3 linked regions of the Homo sapiens genome follow. The protein of the gene in region 1 purifies or fractionates together with the protein of each later gene. This does not show direct contact. Each region holds a gene or a part of one and is shown on either strand. Other genes may lie near its edges.

Evidence for each region. The genes of interacting proteins can lie anywhere in the genome.
Region 2: the proteins of SEPTIN3 (region 1) and CBR4 purify together in Homo sapiens (affinity purification with mass spectrometry; 4 studies listed by BioGRID and IntAct, with this or other methods). This does not show direct contact.
Region 3: the proteins of SEPTIN3 (region 1) and WDTC1 purify together in Homo sapiens (co-immunoprecipitation; 3 studies listed by BioGRID and IntAct, with this or other methods). This does not show direct contact.

What each region holds. Positions count from the first base shown.
Region 1 is NC_000022.11:41,965,590-41,972,445, forward strand, and holds the start of SEPTIN3 (neuronal-specific septin-3), read left to right. Parts: upstream 1-3,853; 5' UTR 3,854-4,088; intron 4,089-5,884; 5' UTR 5,885-5,903; coding exon 5,904-6,856. UniProt on the Homo sapiens protein: Filament-forming cytoskeletal GTPase. May play a role in cytokinesis.
Region 2 is NC_000004.12:169,000,240-169,007,265, reverse strand, and holds part of CBR4 (3-oxoacyl-[acyl-carrier-protein] reductase), read left to right. Parts: intron 1-374; coding exon 375-511; intron 512-1,351; coding exon of another isoform or gene 1,352-1,381; intron 1,382-5,060; coding exon 5,061-5,195; intron 5,196-7,026. UniProt on the Homo sapiens protein: Component of the heterotetramer complex KAR (3-ketoacyl-[acyl carrier protein] reductase or 3-ketoacyl-[ACP] reductase) that forms part of the mitochondrial fatty acid synthase (mtFAS).
Region 3 is NC_000001.11:27,300,622-27,307,647, forward strand, and holds part of WDTC1 (WD and tetratricopeptide repeats protein 1), read left to right. Parts: intron 1-604; coding exon 605-840; intron 841-1,317; coding exon of another isoform or gene 1,318-1,604; exon of another isoform or gene 1,605-1,878; intron 1,879-2,999; coding exon 3,000-3,174; intron 3,175-4,379; coding exon 4,380-4,572; intron 4,573-5,564; coding exon 5,565-5,762; 3' UTR 5,763-7,026. UniProt on the Homo sapiens protein: May function as a substrate receptor for CUL4-DDB1 E3 ubiquitin-protein ligase complex.

The DNA.
Region 1 (6,856 bases):
CAATTTGTCACTCCCTCCTTCCCTCTGCCACATGACTAGCAATGCACTAGAAGGCAGCCTGGGTCCCAGAGGGAAGAGGGCACAGAGCAGAGCCTTAGTGGACCCAAATTACTGTGGACATGAGACATGGATGAGAAATCAATGTATCATTGCGGCCAGGTGTGGTGGCTCAGGCCTATAATCCCAGTACTTTGGGAGGCTGAAGTAGGAGGATCGCTTGAGGCCAGGGGTTTTAGACCAGCCTGGGCAACATGGCAAAACCCTGTCTCTACAAAAATTAGAAAAATTAGGCTGGACGCAGCTCACGCCTGTAATCCCAGCACTTTGGGAGGCTGAGAAGGGTGGATCACTTGAGGTCAGAAGTTTGAGACCAGCCTAATCAACATGGTGAAACCCTGCCTCTACTAAAAATACAAAATTAGTTGGGTGTGGTGGCACACACCTGTAATCCCAGCTACTTAGGACGCTAAGGCAGGAGAATTGCTTGAAACTGGGAGGCAGAGTTTGCAGTGAGCTGAGATCATGCCATTGCACTCCATCCTGGGCAATAAGAGCAAAACTCCATCTCAAGAAAAAAAAAAAGAAGAAATATTAGCTGGGCGTGGTGGCACATGCCTGTAGTCCCAGCTACTCAGGAGGCTGAGGTGGGAGGATCACCTGAGCCTGGGTAGGTCGAGGCTACAGTGAGCTGTGATAGTGCCACTGCGCTCCAGCTTGGGCAACAGAGTGAGACCCTGTCTCAAAAAAAAAAAAAAAAAAAAAAATCAGCATGTTGTTATCAGCCACTGGGATTTGGGAATGGTTGTTACTGCAGCATAATTTAACTCATTCTGACTGATATAATCTCCATTTTACAGATGAGAGGGGAGCTCAGGGGGATTGACTTGTTTGAAAATCACATAGTTGTAACAAACCCAGGCTTGAAGGACTCCAGAGCCTATGACACTTGTCTGGGAGGCCACCACAATGGTTTTGTGGTTGAGTGGAGGCCTCTGTTCTCTGAGGCCACTTCCAGGCCTATGGATCTTTCCTTTGATGGGAAAGCACCATATGTATAGATAGGAGAGGGCCATTGTCACTTTGGGCCCCTAGAGGGCAGCTGAAACTTGGCCTGTAATTACTGGGCAGGAAGTGTCCTCTAAGCCTCTAAGCAGGGCAGATGGGCAGGAGGATGCGGAGATGAACATGACTCAGGCCTTGCTCTCAAGGCCCTAACAGCCTGGCAGGGAGCGAGATGGAGGAATTGTAGATCTTGAAGTAGAAGAGACCGACCACATGAGGGCATCTGATCCCTATTTTAAAAGGCAACTGAGTCCCAGAAGCACAAGTTAATCTGATAGACGTTGCCTGGTGAATCGTTGGCCAAAGTGGGGAGAGAACCCAGGGCCACTGATTTCAGCCCAAGGCTGCTTATCTCACAGAGATCATGTAATCCAATGGGGCTGGGCCCAGGAAAGTCTCCCTTGCTCCAATCCGTCCAGGCAGAGCTGTGCCTCTCCTTCCCAGCACCCTCTGTTCTTCCTTAAGTCAGGCCAGTTCTCAGGGCCTCAAAGCATGGAAGCGCCAGATAGCTGCCCTCCCCCATCCACTGGGATCCCAGCACGTTGCCCTGGTAACCAGAGCCCAGCCAAGTTTGAGAACCTAAAGCTGTAAGGGGAGAGAAAGGATAAGAAGAGGGATAGGGGCTGGGCACGGTGGCTCATGCCTGTAATCCCAGCACTTTGGGAGGCCGAGGCAGGCGGATCACAAGGACAGGAGATCAAGACCATCCTGGCTAACACTGCGAAACCCCATCTCTACTAAAAATACAAAAAATTTAGGTGGGCGTGGTGGCGGGTGCTTGTAGTCCCAGCTACTCGGGAGGCTGAGGCAGGAGAATGGTGTGATGGTGTGAACCCGAGAGGCGGAGCTTGCAGTGAGTCGAGATGGCGTCACTGCACTCCAGCCTGGGTGACAGAGCGAGACTCTGTCTCAAAAAAAAAAAAAAAAAAAGAAGAGGGATGGGTGCTAGGCCCACACAATCACCATTCAATCATTCATTCATTCATTATTTCTTTCTAAAGAAATTTACCGGTTGGGCACGGTGGCTCATGCATGTAATCTCAGCACTTTGGGAGGCTGAGGCAGATGCATTACTTGAGGTCAGAAGTTTGAGACCAGCCTGGCCAACATGGTGAAACCCCGTCTCTACTAAAAATACAAAAATTAGCCAGGCGTGGTGGCACACACCTGTAATCCCAGCTACTTGGGAGGCTGAGGCAGGAGAATCCTGAGGCTTGAACCCGGGAGGCGGAGTTGCAGTGAGCTGAGATCCCGCCACTGCAGTCCAGCCTGGGTGACAGAGTGAGACTCTCAAGAAAAAGAAACTTACTGAAGCCAATTTTTGCCAGACCCTGGGGCCCAGAGAAGAAGATCCAGGACCTTCATAACTGAGCTTTCCACCCAGGCATGGTGGCTCACGACCGTAATCCCAGCACTTTGGGAGGTGGAGGTAGGAGTATTGCTTGAGCTCAGAAGTTCGAGACCAGCCTGAGCTACATAGGGAGACCCCCGTCTCTACAAAAAATAAAAACTTAGCTGGGCGTGGTGGTGCATGCCTGTGGTCCCAGCTACTCTGGAGGCAGAAGTGGGAGGATCACTTGTGCCCAAGAGGCTGCAGTGAGCCATGATGGCGCCACTGTCTTCCAGCCTGGGCGACAGAGTGAAACCCTGTTCAAAAAAACTAATAACAACAACAGCAACAACAAACGAAACAGAGCTGAGCTAATATGGTAGCCACAGATTAAAATAAACTAAAAAATCCAGTTCCTTGGTCACTGTAGACACATTTTAAGTGATCGGTAGCCATCTGTGGCTAGTGGCTACTGTACTGGACAGCACAGACATAGAACATTTCCATTATCACTGAAAGTTGTATTGCCCAGCGCAGCTCCAGAAGCTCACTCGCTAAAGAGAGAGACACACAGGAGAGCAGACCAGACAACACAGTGTTGTGTGGGCTGCAATGTCCTCCTCGGTAAAAAGCAGGTGATGAGGCGGAGATTAAAGGAGATGCCAGGAGAATGCTTAGCCTAGTTCCTGACTCAGGGTGAGTGCTCGGAGGACATCTGCCATCACCGTACAGGACAGTACTATAGGATCTGTTTACATACCTATCTTCCTAGCAGACTGTGAGCTCCGCCCAGCCCTGGCATGGTGCCGGGCACAGAGCAAGTGCTCAGGAAATAGTAGCTGTTATCAGCACCATTGTTATTATCACCACTGCTATGACAGAGGCAGCCGAGGGCTGTGGGAACACAGAAGAGGGCTCCCATCCCAGCCCCAGGGCCAGGGGCTGCTGAGAGTCGGCATTGCCAGAGCCAGGCTGGGTGGCTTTGTGGTCCCCTCAGGGGCAGGCCTAGGGCGGGGTCCTCTTCACACCCTTAGGGTCTGGGTACAGGGTCCAGCTGGAGCAAGCTGGGGCTCAGGGAATAGTTGTGGAAGGAGCTCTAGCCTCCAGGAACTCCAGCCCCCTTGAGGAAAGACCAGGTGAGTGGGCAAGATGGTCTGAGGGTTGCAGAGCTGAACAGGGCATGAAGGGCACAGAGGCAGAGCCAGAGGGAGACTCGCGCTGGGACTACCAGAGTGCAGCCATATTTGGAGTACCCCTGTTTTTACTGCAGACTCCCCAGGCATCAAAGTCTGTGGGAGACAGAGCAGATTTGGGGAGGGCAGGCTGCAGGGAACCTCCCTGCAGGTGGCCGTGAGTGCCAGCCTGGCCGTTACCAGCCTCCCATGGCTCTTCAGGATTCCAGAGGCTCAGAGCAGCCATTCACAGCCGCCCACTCCTAGGAAGCCAGCCCCTCCCTGCACCAGAGCCCAGCCCAGCACGGTCTCCGGGGATGTAGCTGGTGGGACAGTGAGCAGAGGGCTGGGCCCTGTGCCTGGGGACTGTGGCCTGGAGGCTGAGCAGGAGCTGAGGAGGGGACCAGAGGGACAAGGCCCCTAAGCTGGCCACCATGGCCAGACTCTGAGTGCAGGGGAGGTGAGGGGCCTGCGTGTGCCTTATCTTCCCAGACACACTGGATCCTTCTTGTCCTCTGATCAAGGTAGGTGTGTAGGGGGGTGGAAGGGTGTGGGGGTTTGTGGGGGTGGGAGGGTGGTGGGGGTGGGGTGGGGAAGGACCAAGCAATCCATGGAAGATGGGAGTGCAGTGAGGGGATGGGGAGTCGGGTGATGCCCTCGGACACCCTGTCCTCTGGCCTGCTCTGTGTGTGGGTGTGCACACTGAGGGGAGCTGTTTGTGGCTAAGTGCAGGGTAAACGTGTGTGCCCAAGTGGATGTGGCTGTGCAGGAGGGGGCAGAAGTTCAGGGCTGCAGTGATAGGCCAGGTGGGAAAGGGTTGGAGGCCAGGACAGTCTTGGATACAAATATATGGCTGGAGAGGGATGAGGGGCTGGGGGCACCATTGTGAGGGGTGATGCCTTCCCTGTCCGGTGCCCTGCCTTCCCCGTCCCTGCTGCAGACCTCAAGGACCTGGCTACATGATCACTCCCCTCCCCATGAGCCCTCTGGAACTGACTCCTCCCACCAGCCCTGGCCTTGTCCCCCAGCTGCAGGTCCCAGCCTGCTGTGTTAAAAGCAACCAAACCAACTTTTTTCTAGAGGGTGAGTTACTTGGAGTCCAGAGTAGCAGGGAGTGGCCCATCTACTAAGACCACAGCCAGAGTCCTGAGCTTCATCCTCGACACCTCTTTGTGCCCACTCCCTACCCTGGGCAGTCCCGCCACTTCTACCCCTGTGCAATGCAGCCTCCTCCAGCCCCAGCCCTAGCTCTGCCCCTTGCACAGCCCACGGAGCAGAGAGTTTCAACTATGTCCTCATGGGATCCTGGCTTCAATTCTGTTCCCATCTGATCCCTCTGTCACACTGCCCGAGTGGCCGTTCCCACCTACAGATCGGAATGGGTCACATTCCCTGGCCTAAACTTTGCTGTAGCCTGGCCTGGACCCCAGCTCACCTGCAGCCTTGGCTCTCCCCTCCCTGCTACATACAGCCTAGGAGCCCCATGTTGGATTTTCAGAAAGATGCCACACTTTCTCACCTTTGGGCCTTCTGTAGGAACAGCCCCAGCTCAGGTCTAGCCTCCCGCCTTTCTACCCCTAATGCTTAGCTTGGTGGAGCCCTGCCTACTTCCTTGCCTGGCATCCCTGGGCATGGCAGCCTCTTCAAGGGCGGGGACCATGGCTTGTTCACCAGATAAGCTCCTTCTGTGAACACTCACTGCCTCTCCATTTCCCATCCTCACCTTCTCCAGGGCTGGCTCTGTTTCTGACTCCAGCACTAGGCCAGCTCAGGGCTCTTTCTTGGTTCTGGGGCTCTAAGCCAAATTGGTCCTCTCTCATCCTGCCACCTGGACACCTGAGCTCCTATGTTGGCTGCTGTGGGTGGGAACCCACAGCCCTTTGGTTCTTTCTGGAAGAGAAAGGGAGAGACGTCTCCAGTAAGCACTGCCCTCCTCTGGAGTCCCTGAACATGTATGTGACCTCCATAGAGCTGTCCACAGAGACAGGGGCCACACTCAGGCCCAGGCAAAGGGAGACGTAAGCCCAGCCTGAGATGCCCCATGCTGGAGGCAGACTGCTCACTGGACGTGCCCACCCCACTGTGTGGTGGCTGGCCGGGGTGGGGTAGGTATGAGGTACAGATCAGTCTGCAGCAGGTAGGAGCCGTAGGAGGACAGGAGGAAGTTACATGCATCCTCCACTAAGGACTGGACAGTCCCCAGAACCAGGCCCCTTCAGACCCGGCATGCTCAGCTGCTGGTCAGGAAGGGGAGAGCTGAGACCTCCAGGCCTGAGCTCCTCACCCCTGCCTGGCCTCTTCTCTCTGTTGATTGCCTCAGGGAAAGACAAACGACCTGGATGGACCACAACTTTGCTCCTGCTCCTCCAGAGATGCAGTCGCATGGAGCTCCAGGCCCGGGAACCTCCTTCTCCCATAGCCATGTGCTGGGGCGCCCTATCCGCCCCTCGAGACTCCCTGGAGGAGGGTCCCCCCTCACCCCCGTCCTCAGGAAGACCATCCATCTGGATACCTTCCCCCAAAGCCATATCCCACAGACCTCCAGCCGGCTGGGCCTTGGAGCCAGGACCCGGAGTGTGCCCCCACAGGAGACGGGCATCGCTCTGGGGGCTTCCTTGAGCCCCCTGCCCACCAGCAGCCTTGTACCCAGGAAGCTCAGCTCCATCTCCTTGACTCTCCATCAGAACAGCCAGGCACGGTCCCTGGATCGCCCACTTTCTCACTGGGAAGAGTTGCCTACCCCAGGAAAGAAGGCTGCTCCCCATGAAGGAGGGAGGGTGTCCTCGCCAGGCTCGCCACCTGTGACCCTAGTGCCAGGGGGCAGGGTCCACTCTGAGGGCCCAGGGAACCCAGGTCTGACCAAATCCAACAGGATGCTTGCCACGGAGAAGCCCCTGGTGAGTTCCTACCTAGCCTTACCTTTCCAATCCCGGTTAGCCCAGAGTGCACCAGTCCTTGCAGAGCCAGGCTCGTTGGGCCAGGGGCACCTTGTCTCAGTGACTGACCACATGCCTACCAGAGCTTCTCCAGGAAAAGGCAAGCCCCGGGCCAGGGGGATCCCCAGACCCCGGGGGCGTCTCCAAAGGGCCAACACGACTGTGAATTTGACTGCTATGGACACAAGGACAGACGCAGCCAGACATTTAGCCACAATGGCCACCAACAGACCTAGCTTGGCTATCAATTTAGCCACACCAAACACATCCCAACTGGACACAGGCACAGAGTTCCCTGCCCTGGATATCAAGCTGGGCACAGCCAGAGACTTGTCTTCGGTAGGGACAGTCAAGTC
Region 2 (7,026 bases), on another chromosome or scaffold:
TTTAAAAGATGAATTTAGGAGAGAATATTTAGATAACATATTAATTTTCTTGCTAAACAAGGCTTAGTATGGCAGTTGCTCAGGCCATTCAAACTATTTTGGCTATATGTTACTACTTTTTAGGGGTTAAGAATATTTGCCACTCAAGCTGAGAAGGGGTAGCAACCTGTCTTCCAAGTGGATCCTTTCTGGTTTATCAATTGTTATTTTAATGTTTCTCAAGCCAAGTTCAAAATGGGACTCTAGGTATTCTAGCTATTCTAGCTCAGATAGGAAGCACTTCTTGCACTCTCAGTAAAAATGTTACATTAGTCTTGACCTTTTTGGTTTTTATCTTGTTATTATATGCTATTATATGCTGTTTCTTTTTGTAGGGATGGTCTTTTAGTAAGAACAAAAACTGAAGATATGGTATCTCAGCTTCATACTAACCTCTTGGGTTCCATGCTGACCTGTAAAGCTGCCATGAGGACTATGATTCAACAACAGGGAGGGTCTATTGTTAATGTAGGTGAGTCTTCACCTTTGTGAATTTATGATTATCCCATAATACCATACCATAAAAATATTTAATCCACGAATTTGTGATTTATTGTGAAACATGAATGAAATTTATATTATCTGTGGAAAAAAGGATTTAATTAATTGATTAATGAGTAAAATAAGAATCACACATTCACATCCCTATAGGAGTCAGGCAGGTGTTAAATGAGTGACACCACTGAGTACTAGAAAAATGACAGTACCAGCCATGTGATAAATGATATCCAGCTTCATTGTCCAGAGCCCATATGGAATGGTGGAGGCCACCACTTAGATTCAGTAGATTGTTGCCGTGCAAGAATGTGGTCCCAGTTTTGCCAGCAATTTTGATTTTTCAAGAGAAATTGGATCATTCTGATTTTTATGTGAATTTTTTTTTTTTTAAATAGAGACGAGGTCACACTATGTGGCCTAGGCTGGTCTTTAACTCATGGGCTCAAGTGATCCTCCCGAAGTGCTGGGATTATAGAGGTGAGCCACGTGCCCAGCCAGGAACCTGATTTTTAAAACATGGACAAGGAATTAAAGTAGACAGTGGTGGCTAAATAATATTGTCTACAGCAGTTTCATGGGTTACTGTTAAATCTTGTGTAGAGGTTTAAAGGAAGATAAAATTTCTCTGTTTTTAAGAATGGATGTAAGTAACCCCTAGTTTTCAGTTCATCTAACCCACAGGGCAGATAAGCTGTGGAGTATATGCCTGTAGAACTTAAAATGCAAAATGACTTGAAATTTTATTTCAGTTTGGTAATTTGGAAATAATAGTATACCATCTGCTTTTTATTTTCAAATGGTAATACCTTAAAAGGCCACAGAAGGGAGATGCTGCTCCATAAAAGTAAGTGACCCTGTTCTTTTAAATGTAGGAAATGGTTTTTCAAGCCAGAATTTAGAGTTTTTCTGTTTTGAAAGTGAGAAAAGGAAAGAATACTATGCTAATAAACTAAGGGGACATGAGAGCATTTTGGACATTTACTCTTAAAAATTTAAGGGATCCGTTTTCTTATGTAAGAGATTAGTCAATGAGTCAACCTTTGCCTTTTAACACAGCCAGATAAGGACTTTGGATACTTACAAGCAGGCAAACAGGCCTGTATCTGTCACCTGATAACCTGAGGTATATTTGTTTAACTCTAAAATCTTCTTTTTTTTAGGTGTATTTAAAAAACCCATTAGTCCTCCTTATGCATGCAAAACTTTTAGAATTGAGCTAAAAGTAAATAATAGATAGTAAATTGAGAATCTTACTACAGGAAGGACTACTTTAAACTGCCAGACACTTCATTGGTATTTCAGAAATTACCACTTTTTGACCTGATGAACAGTAGTGCGTGGCACGAATCAAAGCTGCTAAAGCAGCTTGTGTTTTTTTTTCTTTTAAAAGCCACTCATATTTAGCAGTTGGGGGTTGTATACTAACTTTAGTGACACTACTGTTAATAGGTTCTGATAACCCGCTACCATCGGACCAGCCCTGTTTTGGTATTTTTTTCGTGCATGTATTTTTCTTTTTTTGTGTCTCTGTATTTTTCTTTCTGATAAACACCCCTCTATCCATATGCATTTCTTCAGTCTGATGTCTGTTCTCTCTGTGTACTTCACAGTTCTCTTCCTTTGTTATTAATTGGCCTACAATATATAATGTAGATAAATATTCTAATACTGAACTTGTTGATTCTAATAGAGAAATGTTTGGAATGTTTTCTTTTTTTAAAATTACTTTAAAAAAATTTTGTGAGGTCCTTGATTAATTTTTGTATCATAAGTACAGGTCAGTGGTGCAGAAAATTACTTCCCCACTTCTGTTTTGCAAGAGTTTATTTGCATATAGTTGATATTTGAATTAAAAATTATTATTACATATTCATTAGATGTGGTCACTCAAGAATCTTCAGTAGGCAGTACAGTTTACAATATATCACTGAATGTAATGAAATTGCACTTTTACAAAAAGTGTATAATTGAAGCTTTGCCAATTTAGATTGACAGTACAAGCATGTCTCGCAGATATTGTAGCTTTGGTTCTGCTCCACCGGAATAAAGCGAATATGTCAAGAATGTAAGTCACACAAATTGAATTGCTGCAATCTCATGATAAAACAAATGGGTGAGGAGTTGCTTCTTATGTATGGATAAACAAAGTTGTTTCTCAAGATGGAATCTACTTGTGAAGATGTGAATACTGTTGAAATGACAAAGGATTTAGAATATCCTATAAACTTAGTTGATAAAGCAATAGCAGGGATTGAGAGGAGAGGCTCCAATTTTTAAAGTTCTACTTGGATAAAATGCTATCAAAGAGCATCACATGCTGCAGAGAAATCTTTCATGAAATGAAGAGTCAATCAATGTGGCAAATTTTGTCTTATCCAATTGTTTAGTTTCTCAGTGCATGTAAAAGTTATATTATGGTCTATTAAGTATGCAGTAGCATTATATCTAAAAAAAATGTAAATACTTTGTTGCTAAAAAAATACTTTATTGCTAAAAAATGCTAATGATCATCTGAGCTTCTGGCAAGTCATAATCTTTGCTGGCGGAGGGTCTTGCCTTGATGTTTATGGCTGCTGACTGATAATAGTGGCTGTGGCAATTTCTTTATTTTTTTTATTTTTTTATTTTATTATTGTTATACTTTAAGTTTTAGGGTACCGTGCACAATGTGCAGGTTAGTTACATATGTATACATGTGCCATGCTGGTGTGCTGCACCCACTAACTCGTCATCTAGCGTTAGGTATATCTCCCAATGCTATCCCTCCCCGCTTCCCCCACCCCACAACAGTCCCCAGAGCGTGATGTTCCCCTTCCTGTGTCCATGTGTTCTCATTGTTCAGTTCCCACCTATGAGTGAGAACATGCGGTGTTTGGTTTTTTGTCCTTGCGATAGTTTACTGAGAATGATTTCCAATTTCATTCATGTCCCTACAAAGGACATGAACTCATCATTTTTTATGGCTGCTTAGTATTCCATGGTGTATATGTGCCACATTTTCTTAATCCAGTCTGTCATTGTTGCACATTTGATTTGGTTCCAAGTCTTAGAATAAGACAAAATTTGCCACATTGATTGACTCTTCATTTCGTGAGAGATTTCTCTGCAGCATGTGATGCTGTTTGATAGCATTTTATGCAAGTAGATCTTTAAAAATTGGAGCCACTCCTCTCAATCCCTGCTATTGCTTTATCAACTAAGTTTATAGGATATTCTAAATCCTTTGTCATTTCTTTCAACAGTATTCACATCTTCACAAGGAAGAGATTCCATCTTGAGAAACAACTTTGTTTATCCATACATAAGAAGCAACTCCTCACCCATTTGTTTTATCATAAGATTGCAGCAATTCAGTCACATCTTCAGGCTCCACTTGTAATTCTGCTCCACTGAAGTCTTGAACCCCACAAAGTCATCCATGAGGGTTAAAATAACTTCTTTCAAACTTCTGTTAATGTTGGTATTTTGACCTGCCATGAATCACAAATGTTCTGAATGGCATATAGAACGGTGAATCCTTTCCAGAAGGCTTTTAATTTACTTTGCCCAGATTCCTAAGAGGAATTACTATTTATGACTGCTATAGACTTATAAAATGTTTCTTAAATAAGACTTGAAAGTCAGAATTATCCCTTGATCCATGAGCTGAAGAAAGGATATTGTGTTAACAGGCACGAAAACAACATTAATCTCCTTGTACATATCCATCAGAGCTCTTTGGTGACCAGATGCATTGTCAGTGAGCAGTAATATTTTGTTTGTGGCACCCCAACAGCAGTAAACATCAAGAATCACTGATCACAGATCATTATAACAGATGTAATAATAATGAAAAAATTTAAGATGGTATGAAAATTACCAAAATGTGACAAAGAGACACAGAGTGAGCACTGCTCACAGTGAGCCATGGTGTTGGAAAAGTGCTAATAGAATTGCTTGTTGCAAGGTTGCTACAAGCCTTCAATTTGTTAAAAAAAAAAAAAAAAAATGCAATATCTGCAAAGCACAATAAAGCAGAACAATAAAATGAGTTATGCATGTAATTCAATTTTAGTGAGATTTAGCTTCAAATGAACTAGTTTTTAGGGTGAAAACGAGAGCTTTCTGCCTTATGTCTGTGTTGTAGAATCATAAAATTAGTCAGCTTTTGTCTGACTTTTTCTGGCTTTAACCTCTACCTGCTGGAAGCCTTTATAAATACCACAGAATTTTCATCATATCTGACCTACTCAGAGATTAGAGTGCATCCCCTTCACGTAGTGAATCAATTCGCAAGCACCTGCATTGGCAGTTTTGTATCAGCTGCTTTCAGATGCTATTTTCTGTATGTATCTGGAGCAGACTTGGACTCTTAAATCTTCCGTAAATGACTGATGACAATGGTTAGAATTTCTAATTTTAACAAAGGACAAGGTGAAGTGGGTTTTACCTTTTTGTTTACTATAAATTATCTAAATTTTCAAGTAACCCCATTAATTGAATTTAATACGCTTTTTTTTTTTTTTTTTTTTTTTTTGTCCTAGGAAGCATTGTTGGCTTAAAAGGCAACTCTGGCCAGTCCGTTTACAGTGCCAGTAAAGGAGGATTAGTTGGATTTTCACGTGCTCTTGCTAAAGAGGTAGCAAGAAAGAAAATTAGAGTGAATGTAGTTGCACCAGGTTAGTGAAAACTTTATTAAAATAACTTGATTATGATTATTGTTTTATAGGGAAGCCATTATTTGGAACATTAGTAATTGACATCTGGGTAGAATAGTTTGTAAAATGATTGTGAAAAGAATCAAATAATGAACTGGGGGACTCAAAAAAATTTTTTGTACCTCATATTCTATATAAAGTCTATGTGTTAGCCTGTTTGCATTGCTCTAAAGGACTGTCTGAGGTAATTCATAAAAAAAAGAGGCTTATTTGGCTCTCGGGCCTGCAGGCTGTACAAGCATGACACCAACATCTGCTCAGCTTCTGGTGAGGCCCAGGAAACTTTTTTTCAGTCATGGCGGAAGGTAAAGAGGTAGCAGCCAAGTCATATGGGGATAGCAGGAGCAAGAGAGAGAGGAGGTGGCAGGCTCTAAACAACCAGCTCTGGCATGAACTAACAGTGAGAACTCATTATTTACCATGTGGAGGGCACCAAGCTATTCATGAGGAATCCGCCTCCATGACCCAAACACCTCCCGCTAGGCCCACCTCCAACATTGGGAATCACATTTCAACATGAGATTTGGAGGGGACAGACATCCAAACCATAAGAGTCTTTATTTTTAAATTTTGCACTAGTGGAATAACTTAAGGTGGAGAGGGTCTTAGAAATAATTTTTTCCAGTCATTTTTGTAGATTAGAAAACTGTACCTGGGATTCAGAGTGACTTGCCTAAGGTTACACAGCTAGTTTATGGAAGAACTGTTACTAAAAGCTTTGTCTTTTGATTTCCACCTAATGGGAGCTTAAAAATAATGTCCTACCAGGTATGGTAGCTCATGTGGGAGGCTGAGGCAGGAGTATTGTGAGGCCAGGAGTTCCAGATCAGCCTGAGCAACATAGCAAGATGCTGTCTGTACCGAAAAAAAAAAAAAAAAATTAGCTGGGTGTGGTGGTGCACACCTATAGTCCCAGCTATTTGGGAGGCTGAAGCAGGAGGATTGCTGGAGTCCAGGAGTTGGAGGTTGCAGTGAGCTATGATCATGCCATTGTACTCCAGCCTAGGTGACAGAGCGAGACCCTGTTGAGACCCTGTCTCTATAAAAATTAAAAAAAAAATTCTTTTTAGATTTTCTTTATATCATTACACAAACTTTAGATAGTTTTGTCCTTTTACTACTATGGTCTGTCTAAACTATCTGGAACCTCCCATTTTCCTAATTTTTACTTTTCCATTATTTGCCTTTCGCCAGGGTACTAGTTGATAAAATTGCCTGGATTAATGAAGAGGGTAATAAAAAGGTGCTAAAACTCAAAAATATATGATCACTAATTAGCTGGTGTGCTAGAAATTTTGATTAGGTATTTACTTGGTTTTTGAGTAACACAAGTGTTTTTATCTACCTCTGCCAGTTAGCCATGGAATCTTTGTCCTAGCCTACTGTAGGTACTTAAGAATTAATCACCTATATAAGAAAAGGCAGTTTATTTTGGTTTGCTGGTCCTTTGTAAGAAAGAGAGGGCTGAAGTAGACCTTTGCTACCTTTCCCTTTCCGGTCACTAATGGCTCCAGCTTGGACCTTACAGTTGGTGTTTTCTTTGGCACTGAAGTTGAGCCAGCAGGTATCAGGGATTTATCAAAATATCCTATTAACCCTTTTGGTCTATAGTGTGTCTTTATTTCAATTCTTTTCTTTTCTTTTTTTTTTTTCTCATAGCAACTAGCTACATTCAGACATTCTAAATCTATGAATATTTGATAAGTGACTGTGGTTCAGATACATCTATTTGCTGGGAGTAGGGAGAGAAAGAAAAAGAAAAAACAATCCAGAAGCAGCATTGTTGTTATCT
Region 3 (7,026 bases), on another chromosome or scaffold:
GACTCTGCCAGACTGTCAGGCCCCATCCTCCAGCCCCAGGAGGTAGAGGCCACAGCTGCTGTGGATCAGTCAGCCAGGACAGGGGGGGGTCTGGCTGAGGGCTTGCTGCCTGCTGGTCAGACCCTGCGTCCCCAGCCTGACACTTCTGGCTTCCCCAGACCACAGAACTGTCCTTGAGGGCCCCCTGCCTTGGATGTGGCTTTGAAGGCCAGCCGGGGGTGATTTGAGAAGGTGGATGGGGGAAGAGAGAAGGAGGGCTTGGGGAGCCTGTGGTGGGCAAGATGCCAGGCCTTCTGCTGCAGAGCTGCGGGTGCCTGGGGTGAGCCAGTGTGCAGTTGCACTCTGTGCCCAGCAGAGGGCAGCCTGACACCAGCTTTTGCCACCCTCAAGACCTCAGGGTTTCCTGGCTTGCTCCTTAACCATACTCTGTCTCCTGATGGGGGAGGCCTGGGCTGAGCCAGGATTCTCTTCGTCCTCAAGTCCCCTTGCCATGAGATCTGTCAGTGGTGGGCTGGGGTGGCCACAGGAAGCAGAGGAGACTGAATGGGGACCCCTTGCTTGCCACGTGGCTCCACCTCCAAGCCGCTCTTCCCTGCCTTCCCAGGGATGGTGACCACTATGATGCCCTGAGGGACTGCCTCAAGGCCATCTCCCTAAACCCATGCCACCTGAAGGCACACTTTCGCCTGGCCCGCTGCCTCTTTGAGCTCAAGTATGTGGCTGAAGCCCTGGAGTGCCTGGACGACTTCAAAGGGAAATTTCCGGAGCAGGCCCACAGCAGCGCTTGTGATGCATTGGGCCGCGACATCACAGCTGCCCTCTTCTCTAAAAATGATGGTGGTGAGTGGGCACTGAGGAGGGGGTGCTGTTACTCTTTCTCTTTGAGATGCTGCATGACATTCTGGAGAGGTCATGGTTCTGGGATTGGAGAGGCCTGGGTTCAGATGTTGATTCAGAAACCATGCAACTTTGGGGCAGTTACTTGGTGTCTCTCTCAGAGTGTTTCCTGGTCTGAAAAGGAGGCATGCCAGCACCTCCCACTGAGCGTTTCTATTGAGGATCAGCATGTTTAAATGGCATGTTTAAAGCACCTGGGGGAGTGCCTGGTGCCCAGGATAGGAGGAAGCTGAGCTCAGTCAGGCTCCCGCTAGGCATTCACACCTGCTTAGACAGGGCCCTGGTGGTTCCACTTGGGCATCTGAGAGGCAGAAGCTGGTCATTGTGTTTGTTCCGAGTGTACAAGTGCAGCAGAGACAATAGCGCAGAGCAGTAGAAATGCCTCAGGCTTGGAATGTGGGGCCTCGGTTCCAAATGCAGCTCCACCACCTGACTGTGTGGCCTTGAAGAAAGCACAGCCTCTCTACCTACCTGCACAAAGAGCACGAAGCCCTGCCCAGCTCCCCTCAGTGTGCTGGAGAATGAACTGGGCCATCGGAGTGTGGTCTGTAAACGTGAACGGTGAGCTCATAGGAGGCAGACATGGATCTTCACCTCTCTCCTTTGCAGTTTACCAACCACGTGATAAATTAATTTGTTTAATGAATAGTTATCAGACACCTGCCATGTGCCAGGCACTGTGCTGGGTCCTGGGAATAGAGCTGTGACTAAGTCACGTGGAATTTCTGTGTTTATGGCATTTACAGTCTAGTGAAGGAACCAAGTGATAAAGGAGAAACAAAAAAGTATGACAAGTGCCATGGGGACCTGAATGGTGTGCATGCTGGGAGGGGGTGGGCTTGATGGCATTCTGGGGTTCTTCAGGAAGAAACATTTAAACTAAGATCTAAAGGATCCAAAGGAAGCATTAACTAGATACAAAATATAGCTGTGTGGCCTAGCGCGGTGGCTCACGCTTATAATCCCAGCACTTTGGGAGGCTGATGTGGGAAAATAGCTTGAGCCCAGGAGTTCAATATCAGCTAGGACAACATAGCAAGATCCCATCTCAACAAAAGAAAAATTAAAAAAAATTAGCCAGGGGTGGTGGCACACACCTGTAGTCCCAGCTCCTCGGGCAGCTGAGGCAGGAGGATCACTTGAGCCCAGGAGGTCAAGGCTACAGTGAGCCATGATCACACCACTGCACTCCAGCCTGGGTGACAGAGCAAAATCCTGTCTCAAACAACAACAACAACAAAATGTAGCTGTGGGAGATGCAGAGCTCCTGGCATATGAACCAGCATGCTCCAAGGCCCTGAAGCAGGTATGAGTGAGTCACTTTTAAGGAACTGAGAAAACTTGTGTGACTTTACCTGTCACTTAACTGATCAGTGACTCTCATTTGGGACCCTAATAACTTGTCTTCCAGAGGGTAAGGGCATGGTCCTTACTGCCCTAAGTGCCATGAATCTGTTTATAAAAGTCACCCAGGCTGGGCTCGGTGGCTCATGCCTGTAATCCCAGCACTTTGGGAGGCCAAGGCAGGTGGATCACCTGAGGTCAGGAGTTTGAGACCAGCCTGGCCAATGTGGCGAAACCCCGTCTCTACTAAAAATACAAAAATTAGCTGGGCGTGGTGGCACGTGCCTGGTAGTCCCAGTTACTCAGGAGGCTGAGGCAGGAGAATCGCTTGAACCTTGGAGGTGGAGGTTGCAGTGAGCCGAGATCACGCCACTGCACTCCAGCCTGCGTGACCATCTCAAAAAAAAAAAAAAAAGTCATCCATTCTCTCTTTGCTAGTGCCTCACTCTACCCTCCCCTGCCTCTTACCTCCACAGAAACAGACTTTGAGTCTCTGCATCTTTGGGGCTTTCAGGCCCTCATTTAGGGACCTGAACCAGGGCCCTCCTGGCATCAAAGGTCTCCTCTTGAACATCCTCAGGGGCTAGATCCAAAGATGCATCTTCCTCACAACCTTTCCCCAGTTTTCCAGGATAAGGGTGGAGGCAGGTAGCTCTATGTTGTCAGACTTTGGACTGAAAACAGAGCCATAGGTGGGGGAAAATAGGGAAGGAGAGAAAGGAACAAGGCGCTTACCTTTTCTGGATCTCTGCCCCCAGAGGAGAAGAAGGGACCTGGTGGCGGCGCCCCAGTCCGCCTCCGCAGCACGAGCCGCAAGGACTCCATCTCAGAGGATGAAATGGTGCTGCGGGAGCGAAGCTACGACTATCAGTTCCGCTACTGCGGCCACTGCAACACCACCACGGATATCAAAGAGGCCAATTTCTTTGGCAGGTCCGAGGCCCTGAAGAGGAGGGTGCAGCCCAGTTGGCAGCGGGAGGTTGAGTGGGGAGTGTTGGGGCATAATGGTTTCAGAGAAGAATCTCAAATCCCTGCTCTGCCTCTGTACCCTTGGGCAAATGGCTTCACCTTTGTCAGCCTCTAAAGTTTTTTAATCTATGAAATGACCAACCTGCCATGCCCATTTATGAGGCCATAACAAGGACTAATAAGATAACCCAAGTAGAGCCTCCAGCGCAGTGCCTGAACTACTCCTTCATCCCCCACCTCCTTCTCCCTCTGTCTGCATGTGCCAGAGCTTGGTTTCTTTATCTGCATTCAAGGAACCTCCCTCTGCTTGAGAGTATGAGGCAGCAGCCCTCCAAGGCTGGGAATCTTGGCACATCTGTTTTGTGCTCAAAACTGTGCCCTGTGTACTAAGGGACAAACTCTGTGTTTCAGACACCATCATCCCCACCCCTCATTTGTAGATGTACTTTCTTTGGGTAGGTGAGACACATGAACATGAATCAAGAATCTCTCCATAGGCCAGGCACAGTGGCTCATGCCCGTAATCCCAGCACTTGGGGAGGCTGAAGCAGGAGGATCGCTTGAGCCCAGGAGTTTGAGACCAGCCTGGACAGCATAGACCCCCATCTCTACAAAAAATGTTTTAAATTATCTGGGTGTGGTGACGTGCACCTGTAGTCCCAGCTATTCAGGAGGTTGACATTGGAGGACCAGTTAAGGCCACAGTGAGCCATGATCATGCCACTGTACTCCAGCTTGGGTGACAGAATGAGACCCTGTCTCTAAGAAAAAAAAAGAATCCATCAAGATGCCCTCTAAATGTCAGTGGTGTGTGAGGGGCAGGGGGAGTCTGGATGCCAGAAGCCTGGAACTGCTCAGGGGAGGCTTAAAACAGGGTATTTTGGAGACCCGAGAGATGATGTAAGATGATCCTGGCCCAAGGAGGTAATAATGAACTATAGGGGAGACTGTCTTGGAGAAATCCAGGTAGTCGCTGGCCCTAGGTTTAAGAGAACAGTGACCAGGGCTATATACCTGGAGGAATTCTGGGTCAAGTGCACACCCCAGCGTGTGGGGGACTGAGTGGCTGCAGACTTCCTTGCTCCCCCTTTACCTAGGCCATGCAGCCTCTACTTGAGGCTGTAGGGCAGTACCCCACCTGACCTCCCTGCCCTTTGCCCCCCCGCCAGCAACGCTCAGTATATCGTCAGTGGCTCTGACGATGGCTCCTTCTTCATCTGGGAAAAGGAGACCACCAACCTGGTCCGTGTGCTCCAAGGGGATGAGTCCATTGTCAACTGCCTGCAGCCACACCCCAGCTACTGCTTCCTGGCCACCAGTGGCATCGATCCTGTTGTGCGGCTCTGGAACCCCCGACCAGAGGTGAGGGTGCAGAGCCAAGCAGAGAGGAGGGCAGGGACTCTGTGGAAGGCTCCAGTGGAGCCTGCTAGCGCAGGGAAGAGAAATGAGCCACCCAGAGGCTAGAAGCTGCTAAGTAAGCCTTACCCCGGGGCCCAAGGCTGTGTTCTCAGATTCCAGAAGCTCCAAATGCAGCAGCAATTCTCCAGAAGCTGTGCAGAGGCCCTGGTCACAAGGGAACTATGCAGGCTTTGGCATCTGGTAGGCCTAAGTTTGAATCCAGTCTCCTCACTCGCTGCCTGAGAGACTTCACCATCTCTGACCCAGGCTTTTAATCATCTGTACATTGGGAATGGGAATGACAGCACCACCTTGAAAGGTTGTGGTGAGAAGTAAAGAAGAGATGCCTGTGAAGTGTCCAGCCCACAAGGACACTTAGGACAGTGGAGTCCCCTCCACTCCCAGGGTGGGTAGCCAGGGAAGCTGGCTTGGTGCCTCCCCTTCCCCTCTGCCCTACTGCTTCCCTCTTCCCAGCTGGCAAAACAAAAGTCAAGTGGTATGTCTGATTCCCAAGATAATTTGCTGTGACTTTTAAAGAGAGGACCCCTATAGGCTTCCCCATTGAGAGGAGAGGAGAAAGAAAGATGAAGCAAGAGTTGTGGCAACAAAACAGAATGGGGTGGGGAAGTTGTATCTGCCCCTTGTCCCAGGTATCCCAGTATGTGTGTCCAACATATCCTGGTGTGTACTGTCCCCCACGTATATCCCAGCATGTTATGACCTGCCTGTATATCCTGAGGTGGCGTATCTCCCATATATATTCCAGCGTGAGCACCCCCAACAATATGTAGCCAAGGTTGTGTGTTCCCCTCCACCATATACACCTCCTGGCATGTATGTGTACCTCCCCCTATAGATAGTTTAGTCTGTGTATTTCCCTCCCCCTCCCCTATACGTGTACCCTGGTGCCTCTCCCTCCCTGAGCCCCACGTGTGTCACCCCTTTCTCCACCACAGAGTGAAGACCTCACAGGCCGAGTCGTGGAAGATATGGAGGGTGCTTCACAGGCCAACCAGCGGCGCATGAATGCAGACCCGTTGGAGGTGATGCTGCTCAACATGGGCTACCGGATCACGGGCCTGAGCAGTGGGGGTGCCGGGGCCTCTGATGATGAGGACAGCTCTGAGGGCCAGGTGCAGTGCCGGCCCAGCTAGACCCTCCAGCCCTGGTCCCCAGCCCCTGCTACTGGCTGGACCCTCTGCCCTGGGCAGGAGGTCAGGGGATTCTGTTTTGGTTTGTCTTCCCCACCACCCTTTTTTTTCATTTCCCCTGTTTTGTTTGTTAGTTTGGCGTTAGGGGTGGAGGTTGCTACAACTTGCTGGCTTTCGGACTCTGGGCTGATTGTCCCCTGACTATCCCCAGCCCTGAAAAAAAGAGCAGGAGGGGACACCCCTCCATATGCCCCCCCCCATCTCCTGCTTTCATGTCCCTGGAGGGCTCTGGCCTGCCTCAAAACCCCTTCTGCCTCAGGTGGGGAGGAACAAGCTGAACTGTCTTCAGGGACTGTCCTGCCCTTTAGCTGGCAGCAGCAGGAGGAGTGGGATTCCCAATTGGTAAGGGCTCGCCTTGGCCTGTTGCCACTCTTGCTCCCTAGCCTGCAAGGCTAGCTCCCCTGTGGTCTTCAGGAAAGGTTTTGAAAAAGGATGGGTCCCACCCTCCCTCCAGAGCCACCAGTGTTAGAGCGGAGCCCAAAGGAAGGATGGGAGCCCTGGAGTGGGCAAGACCAGGCCACCTGCTGAGGTCGCTGTGGAGCACCCTCGCTCCTCTCCTGGCTACTAGCTCTGGCCCTGCACCTACTCTCACTGGCCACCTCTGGAGGCTCTGCCTTTCCCAAGGGCCCTGGCAGAGGGTGGGGCACTGCACCTTACCCCACCCATCCATGCCAGCACTTCTGCACTACGGCCATTCTCCTCTTGGGCGCTCCTCAGCCTCACTGTGACCTTTCTGCCAGAGCTCCCAGCCAGGCCTACTCTGCTGAGGTGGCGCTTCCTGCTAAGGGCCCTTCTCTGCCCTTTCTGCCCTCCTTCCCATCCCACATGCTGAGCCGCCACAAAGACCAAAGAAGTGATGGCTTTTCTCTGTCCCCTGCTGCTCTGAGGGGAGAGGGGTGGGTCTCCTGAGCCACTCAGATGGGAAAGTCCCTTACTCGGCCCCTCCCTCCCCAGCAGCCCCAAGCTTTACACTGGATGCAGCGATCAACCCACCACTCACCAGGCCTCTCCTCCCCTCTGCCCCCGGCTCTTAGCTCCAGCTGCTCCAGGTAGTTGGTTCATCCTTCCCCCTCTCTCCCTCCCTGCTTCCCCTTCAGTGCTTACTTGGCTCCAGCCCTCCAGCTGCAGCCCCTGGGGAAAAGCAGCCTCCCTTCTCCTCTCCCTCCACTCCCTCGCTCCCTCCCTCAGCCCCTGTCTCTGCCAGGTG